2 separate regions of the Homo sapiens genome follow, and region 1 is linked to region 2. The links come from fine-mapping of genetic effects on gene expression. Tissue or cell type: lung. Region 2 holds a variant in brackets; the other region holds the start of a gene. All regions are shown on one strand. Distances are from middle to middle.

Evidence for each region. PIP is the estimated chance that this variant, and not a neighbour inherited with it, causes the effect. A credible set is the group of variants that fine-mapping cannot tell apart.
Region 1: it holds the start of PACRG-AS3, and the variant in region 2 is the best candidate, but not a certain one, in a credible set for the expression of PACRG-AS3 in lung (TOPMed, PIP 0.64).

Annotation. Positions count from the first base shown.
Region 1 is chr6:163,189,325-163,193,717 of GRCh38, reverse strand. It overlaps PACRG-AS3 (PACRG antisense RNA 3), which reads left to right and starts at 1,716. Exons shown (of 4, transcript NR_122120.1): 1 at 1,716-1,837; 2 at 2,736-2,810. All of the region lies in intron 4 of PACRG (parkin coregulated), which reads right to left.
Region 2 is chr6:163,229,027-163,233,419 of GRCh38, reverse strand. The region is part of intron 4 of PACRG (parkin coregulated); the gene reads right to left. Among named protein-coding and RNA genes, the nearest start is that of PACRG-AS3, 39 kb to the right of the region's middle. The variant T/C (reference allele first, on the strand shown) is at 2,047.

The sequences.
Region 1 (4,393 bases), 40 kb after region 2:
TTGAAACAAAAATTATCTCTGAGGAAAATTTGTCGAGTTCAATATAACAAAATAAAAATATTTTTTATTTAATAAAAATAAAGAAAGAAAGAAATCCCATGTGTTCACGTCTTCATTTAGTGTTTCCCTCCCAGTTCTCAGGAGGCCACCATGCCGCCCTGTTCCGCACATAGCACTGGGTTCTTAAAAATGGTCAGTCTCGGTATTTCTGGCCGGGCAGCCCCTGGGAACAATCGCCTTGTTGATAGTTTTCCACACTTAATCAGAGAATTTAAAGCAATACAAATGGAATAGTGGTGAAAGTACCAACTCTGACCTTAACTCTTCATACATTGTCTTAAGTTTAAATTCAGCCCTCAAAAACAAATTTAAAACAAAATGAAAGTTTTTCCTCTGGATATTTGAAAGACTGACACCCATTTTCACTCTCTCAATCTAAGTGAAGCCTTATGGAAATGATTAGCACACAAGGCATATTTCTATAGTTGGATATTTATAAAATATAACGTGGCACATTAAAATTTTTCTAGACTCTATCACCACCTTAAAAATGAATATTTAAAAATTACCCTGCAGTTACATGCCAGTGTGCTTGAAATTTATTTTTATAAATATTCATTTGAATTATAGGCTTCAAATGTCTGTATCAAGCAATAAATTGTCATTTTAAAACCAGGAACAACAAAGAGTGACTGTTTATTGGGTTTAAAAAAGGCTTTTATCTCTCACAGACTTTGGGATCCGGTTTAAGGGTTGTAGAATGGTAAGAAGTATCGGGCATTTGGAAAAAATGGAGATCCAAGGAGTGAAGAAGTGTGTCAGATCTTTTTAAGCAGGAAATCGAGTGATGGCTGCCTACTGCAGGACGTCACAGATGTCTGCACCTGTCCAACCCTTGACAGATGCTCCCAACACACCCAACCTGGGAGCCAGTCAGCCTAACCATCTTCCCTGCAAATACACACAGTACAAAAATAAAATGTTCTCTCATCAAGTCTAAATAGAGATCCACATAAGCCATCCATGTCAGAGAACTCTAGCTTTGTACGCTATGATAAAAAAAAGTATTTAAAATGAAATAAACACCTTAATTCATGCTCATCTTGAGACACACTTACCAAAGTTTAAATGTTTAAAAATAAGGCAATAGACATTTTTATGGTTGATAACAAACTACAAATTTGTCTGGGGGAAAAAATCATTAAATGTTTGACAAAAGAGCTGTGATAAGAGATAAAGAACACAGTATTCACTGTCTAAAGAACCAGAGGGGAAAATACAGCTTGTCCCCGAGCCCACATTTTCAACTATGTGTGCTATGATTACAGTTCTAAACAATGGATACTGTGTCAGCACAGAGAAAAACAAACAATAGATCTTTTTCTGAAAGTATCTGTAGGAAGACCATACAAAACAGTCAACAAGGGAACTGAAATAATCCTTGCATTCTTTGCAAAAATAATACTTTAAGGTTCCTTTGCAAGAATGTTGGTATTCTTTTCCACTGTGCATTTCATTTTCCTTCATTCACTACAGATTTTCTCCCAACCTGCACCTGGTTTGAGCAGCAGTCAGCTGGCTTCTGGGGACTTTCCCTATTTCATTCCCTCTAACCCCCAGAGACTCTGGAGGCAGCTGCACAACTGTGCTTTCTTTAGTTATAAAAGCTAGCTTGTGACATCCTTTGTGTGATTCAGTTAAAAACTGAATTAACTGAAATCAATTCAACAACAACTGCCCCGGTGCTTCCCCGTAGATAGCACCGCTGGTCAGTTCGGGAGGGGATGGGACATTGAGGAGCAGGACAGTCTTCAGGAAGCTTACAGTCTGCTTTGGGGTGTGAGACACCAGGCGGGGTGTGGCTTTCATTGGGAGGGACTCCTATGAAGTGTTACAGGGTTTAGAGAAAAAAGGTGGCTGGAAATGGAAGATGAGAGGATCCTGGACAACCTGGGGGCAGAGGGACGTCATGGCTCTGAGTGGGAGTGGAGAAGATGGCATTTTGGTGGATGGGTGGAGGAAGAGCATAGGCACAGATGGCCACGTGGAGTGTGGTCCACAGATAAGTCACCTGGTGGAGTGCAGCCACAGTGCCTGAGTCAGGAGGTCTCAGCTCGTGAGTGTATCTTAGCTCAACGATACACTCAAGATCCTTGAGCTAGGAGAAACCCTATAAACCACCTAAGTGGATGCCTTCTCTTTAGAGAGGAGAGAGCTTAGGTCACAGAGAGGCTGTGACCTCCCCCAAGGGTGGTGCAGAAAGCGGCCATAGCAGTGAAGGGGAAAGGCCTCGTGGCGTTGGGGGGCCACTCGCCATAAAGGTGTGGGGGTCAGAGAAAGGGAAGATCAGAGGACACTGGAACTTGACACTGAGCTGAGGAATGAGACTGGGTGGGATCATTCATAGAAATTTCATCTGAAGCCTGGGAAGGAAGTAGGTTTGGGGGGTGGCGGGAAGGGATGATGGTGAAGTTAGTTTTTTAATTATTGCTTTTATTTATGTATTTATTGTTTGCAATTTTGAGGTCTAGTGTCCATTTAAGTGGAATGGCTTAGGAAAAGGTGCTCATATTTTAAGCTGTTCTCCTGGACTAAGGGTGAATACATAGTCCCTCTTTTAACTTGAATCTAAGTAACAGGTTTTTTGTTTGTTTGTTTTGTTTTTCAAATGATAATATGTAATATTTTAAATTCAGTATTCTAATAAATGCTAAATAAGGGATTTCTGATTTCAGTTGTTTCAGGAACACAGTCATCCCTCAGAAATGGATTGGGTGACAAGTGGTCTGCATGCTGCACACGGGCACTGGGTGAGTGTGCTTGGAGCTGTTTGTCAGGACATCATCAGCAATAGACAGAACACGAGGGAAGTAATCAGTGAAAGAAGACGAAGTTGTTAAGTTGTTTCTGACTTTATCTTTGGAGCGGGCTCACAGAACATTTGAGTGGGCTTTTTGGTATAAGAGAAAGAGCCCTACACTTTTGCCCAATTCTAGTTCTAGGCTCCAAAACAAATTTTACTAGGGTTCTGAACTGACGGGTTAGACTGTTTTTGTTAACTTTTATTCTTATAAATATTTTTGGCCATTGCAGTCCAATCAGAAGAAAAGTAGAAAGCAGGTCATTTTTACCTTCTCTAAGAAAAGAAATCCAAAATTTACAGGAAAGCCCATTCTTGAAAGTCCCTTGTGCTGCTAGGCAGGGCCTTTCGATTATTTTCAGACAGATGTTGAACCTTCAGAATTTCCTCCGTGCATCGGGGTCACTGACTACTTGTGTCTAATGCAACTCTGCACTAACTAGATTGTGCGCCGACCTCTATTTTCACTTTCAAACCTCATATTCCAACGTTGCTCAAGGTTGACTGTCACTGACTGGGCTTTTCTTTACGACTGTACTTATGAAGAACAAATGTACTTGTAAATGTTTGGGGACTTCAAATTTAGTTTACAAATGTGTAGTCCTCATTGAAGATTCGATTTGTATTATATTTAGGCAAGTTTTCTGGCTCTTAATGGGGTCCTAATGAGTCACCGATGGTAAGGCTTCAGATTCAGACCTTCCTGTTAGGATGGGGATGAGCTGTTTGTCCTCATTTGCCAATTATTTGGAAGAGAAAACCAATGTAATGCAATCGGAATCCAGTTGTATTATTAAGACCCGCATTTGAAACCTAGTTTCTTCTATCAGAAGTAATTTTTCTGATTTTTGGATTATGTACTTCTCCTTCATATAAATGAATGTTACTGCTTTTGTGGTGTTACCAGACCTAGCTTATAGAAATAAATGACAGGCCACCTGGGGGTCTGCCCGTGCAAGCATGAACTAAGCAGCAACAAGCAGTATGCCCTGCGGTGACCAGTGTGTCAGCATTCACATAAGCCCGGGACAGTGAATGCGGGCCCTTGTCAGTCACGGGCATCAGGCGCATGGCACTGGGCACAGCTGACTGCCTGTTGATGCTGATGGCTGGATGGCTGCATTTAAGTACACTTTCACAAAACTCATTTGTATCTCTTCCCGAAGAAACCTAAATGGAATTAATTTGTTGGAGGGCTGCAATGTAAAATTTTTAAATAGAGAACAAAATGGAGTATGTTGCTGTTTCATGGAAGAGAACACGGGAGAAACTAGCAATCTGTAAGCTAAAAATTGATGGCAGCCCCTGCCACAATGAATAATTGGCAATGCCATTCAGCCTTTAAAGGTATCAGATAATGAATAAGCTGGGCATAAGGCATCTAGTTCCCTTCCATTATTCTCCAATAGGTTATGTAATAAACATCCATCCCTGAAAGATAATTCTGTTTTTCATTGTTCTGTAAGAGAAGATAATTCTCTCTTTTTTTAAATTGTCCTGGAAGACATTCTTAAAACACCTTGTTAACAAACT
Region 2 (4,393 bases):
TCTCCCTCTCTCTCCAAATTACCATCTAGGTCAACTGTAAAATGCCCCTGCAGCCTCCGGCCTCCTGCATTCTACTCCATTCCTCTGTTTTTACTGGCAGGTGAACTTTTTGTTCATCAATCAGTTCAGCCATCTCTTCATCCATCCATTCACACACCTTCAGCTTTGTCCCTAAATAATTTAAATCTCCTAACAGAGATGTAGAAAACATGAAAGTAGGTGAGAAAAATACAAAGGATAGTGAGCAGGTTATTCCCATTGTGAATTGAAGATGGATTGCAGCAAAGAATACTTCTTGGGGGACAAATTCCTGCTGAGCGTGTTCTGTAACATCACAATACAAGAGAAAACTTAACAGAAAATGTGTTTGAAGTTGCTGAGACCATCTCCTCCCCAGAGATGCCCTTTGCTACACTGGCAGGGCCACTCCAGCTGTAGTCCCAGAGGGATGCGGCCCTGGTGTGAGGGGCAGTATTTCAGCTGGAGGAGCAGAGTTGGGAGAGGGCTGAGGGCTGGTTTCGGGGGTGGAGGCTCCTGGAGGAGGGGTGGAGGGGCTGGCTGTGCAGGGCCAGGGCCTCCTCCTGGGAGCGTGAGCTGGGGGGTAGGTGAGGCGTGCTCTTTACCTTGCTCTGCTCTCAGGCCATGCCTGGACTGTTCTTCCTGCTCTGGCACCTCAGGGAATCAATCACTTTTGTCTCTTCCTATTGCCTGCTGTTCCTGAACAGGGCTCCTCTTCTCGCTGGTCCACAGGAACCTGTTGACCTTCCCCGGTGTGCCTTAGGGAAGCGGAACACCCTCAAAGTATAAGTGTGTTTTGCCATGAACAAGGCCAGGACCACAGAGCCACCTTCCTCTGCCCCTTCTCATCTCTGCTTCTTATTTCCACACCTTCCCACCTTTCCCTTCCCTTACTGCACTGCCTTCTTCCTTCTCCTCTTCCTTTGTTCCTCCTTTCCTCTTTTTCTTCCTTTTCCCTTCCCTTCTTACTAAACAAAGTAAGAAGTGGACAAAGTGTGGGCGTTGGTCTGACACGCAGGCTGGAGCTAAGAGCTACTCTACCAGGAGGACTTGCAGGTTGGGGCTCGGGCACATTGCAGCAGCGGAGGAGCCTCTGGAGTAGCCAGGCCCCAGCGGGACACGGCACCTGGTGCAGGTGAACTCTTCTCTATTATAAGAGTGTGACGCTAATCTTCAGCTCTCCTGGGTTCTCTTCATCATAAATATTCCTGGAATGAACATCACTGTGTTGGCTTGTCCTGAGGCACTCACCTCAGCCACTCCCTTCTAGGCTGGACCTTTGTGTTCTGTAGAGAGCTGCCTTGGGTGGTAGAGGCTGGCCTGAGAGTCCCAGCAAGTCAGTGCCCACTTCAAGTCATCTTCAGAAGTAGCTTATTTTATTTGTTCTAAATAATTATCTGTCCATTTCAACATATACTGCAGATGAAATATCTGCCAATGCAGCATTACATAAATACCAACGTAGTGCCAGCTCCAGCTGAGAGTGAAGCCGGGACTTGTTTACCTACAGTAACTGCGTGCTCAGCATTCTTGGGTGAGGCTGTTTATCATGGCCAACCTGCAGCCAGTGGTCTGGAGAGGCTCTTGCACCTGTATGGTCCCACCTCAGAGAGGCAAATGGATCTCTGCTTGTTGAGAGTGATTCTGAAACTATGCAAGCTCATGGATAAGGGGCTCTGACTGGCAGATGGAGTTTGTTGAGGGTAAAAGGAGTCACCTGGTGGGTGCTGGTCCTGGGGAAGGCATGCAGTCAGCCAGGATTGCTTGCCTTTTCAAGCCACCCTATGTGAAGTCACCTTTTGCTGAGGCATCCTGGCTCAGCGGATCTGGGCTCATAGTTGTGAAGACCTGCAAAGTTGCTGATCCATCTGTATGGAATTGTCTGCATCCGTGCAGGGTGTGACAACCCGGCATGTCACTGTGGTCAGAGCAGCCCGGGGCTCTCCTGCATGCAGCGCCGGTGCAGACTTCCAGCAAGCCCATCTGGGGACTGTCCACTGCTTTATAAAGGGTATGGGCAGGGAACTC[T/C]GGCCATGTTCGAGCAGGATGTGATTAACATGACACAGACTACTGTTTTCTTGTTCTAACAGCATTTTCAGTGGCATGGCAGTGAGTGGGTCACAGGACATAAGAAAAGACAGTGGATGAAGTTAAGAGAAATAGAAAAGCCGCAGGAAGCAATTTTGGAGGACGCCAGTGCTGCTGGCAGGAGAAACCCCAGCCAGCAAGCCACGGCTCCCCCGTGGGCCTGCCCACCTTGCCAGCCTCCCAAAGGTGGTGCCGCTCCCAGCCGCAGCCCCATCCTATCTTGAGAGCCCCTGTTTGGGGTCTCCACTTTCTCTGCTGGCCCAGAGGAGCCGTTGCCTTTGCAGGGATCTTCTTAGTTGTGCCTGAAGATTGTGGCACCCTTGACCTCTCTCCTCTGCCATCTCAATACCATATTCATTTCTGTCCCGCAGGCTTCTTTCACGAGGCTGTAATTACTGGCAGGGACACCTTACCTACCTCCTCCTCTCTCTCCAAATACTGTCCTTCGAGGCCTAATTGAAGGCCTCTCTCCTCCAGGAAGTCTTTTCTGAATGTTGGAGGCTCTGATAACCTTCCGGGTTTTTCCCTCCCTAACTCTGCACCTACAGCAGTTCGGCATTACACACCATCCTGCGTTCTTCATTTGTTTATTCAACCACGTTTTAGGGATTTTGAAGGTGAATTACTGTTGCTGTTTCCATCAGCAATAAACAGACATATAGACACATAGTTGGACACATTTGGACACGTCAAATAAGTCTTAAAGGCCGTGGAATGAGTCTAGTTATATATGTTTTTCCATTCTAGATGGCATGAAATTTAATGTCTATTCAAAAGTCGAAACTATAAAACTCCACTAAGTATAAGCTTTCCAGATAACTAGTTTATTTTCTCCCTGGAACTTAAAATAGGAGGAGGAAAGGGAAGTCTAATTCTGAGAAAGTAGGATCTCTTTCGGATGTTTTGTCCATTAAATAGTGAATATTTTATTACACTAAAAAATTCTATGCATGTAGACTTACAGTAAGTACTCCATATACATTTTAGGCTGATAAATTGGAATAACTGGTATTCTAAGGGGCATAATTTCCTAACATAAGGACACAGTTACCTGTGCTACAATGAAGAGATTAAAAATTGGTTATTGAATGCTTTATCTTAAAGGAGTGCTGTGTAGTAAAGAAGATTCATATTTGCTAAGCTCTTTAAAAACTGTAATGCATGGTGCAAATGTTACATATATAGACGTACATTCTCTTTGCAAAGAGCTTTCACAAAGGACAATGTACTATGAAGATGGCCACTTGGAAGTAAATAGGACTTTGAGGCGTTTCTGATGCCACTGTAGAGAATGTCAACAATGGCAGTATTAAATTTGCTGTTTTTTATTATTTATTTCAATGCCCAGAAGCAAACTGTTGAATAATTTCACCATCAGGTTACAATTGAATTAGGTTCTAAATTATAGGAGGTTAGTGGGACTCTGTGGACCTGAAATTGACCTCTGCTGTCGCCTGGAGACAGTTCTGGGCATCTTGCTGACAACTGCCGCTAAAGGAATTGTGGAGCCTGTTGGTCCTCATGAGAGGAAGTCAGCGCTTTCCTCATCCATCTTTTCTTCCTTCTTAAGAAAAATTCTTCTGTCCCAAATTTCTTCCCAGAGGAGGGTTCTCCTAGAACTATTCAAGGGTCTCTTCCAACAGCATTTGACAGGTGTGGAATTACTACTTAAAAAAGTCACGAGACTAACTAACTGAAGGGGAACGATGGTGCTTGACTACGAATGCCACATTTGTGCTCAGGTGCAGGTTATTCAAGCTGTGGCTGAATGTCTTTGGAACCATTACTGGAGCAAAGCCTGCAGACAACTCCTTGCTAAACCATAAAATGATGATTCTGGCAAGCAAAGATCAGATGCAATCTGAGTGCTCTGAGAAGCAGAAGAATCAGTGCTTTGAAAGGGATCACAAATACTGGATTTTTTGTTGTGGTGGTGGTGGTGGTTTTGTCTTTTTTAGAGGCAGAAGGCAGAGGTCTCACTCTGTCACCCAGGCTGGAGTGCTGTGGCACGATTATTGCTCACTGCAGCCTCTAACTCCTGGGCTCAAAGTGATCCTCCTGCCCCAGCCCCCTGAGTGCCATAGGTGTGCACCACCTCTCCCCTGGTTACTTTTCTGTAGAGACGGGGGTCTCACTATGTTGACTAGGCTGGTCTTGAACTCCTGGACTCAAGTGATCCTCTTGCCTCAGCCTCCCAGAGCATTGGGACTACAGGTATGAGCCACTATGCCTGGCCTGCAAATACTTTTAAATTGAGATATGAAATTTAGCCCTTTCTGGTTCAGTA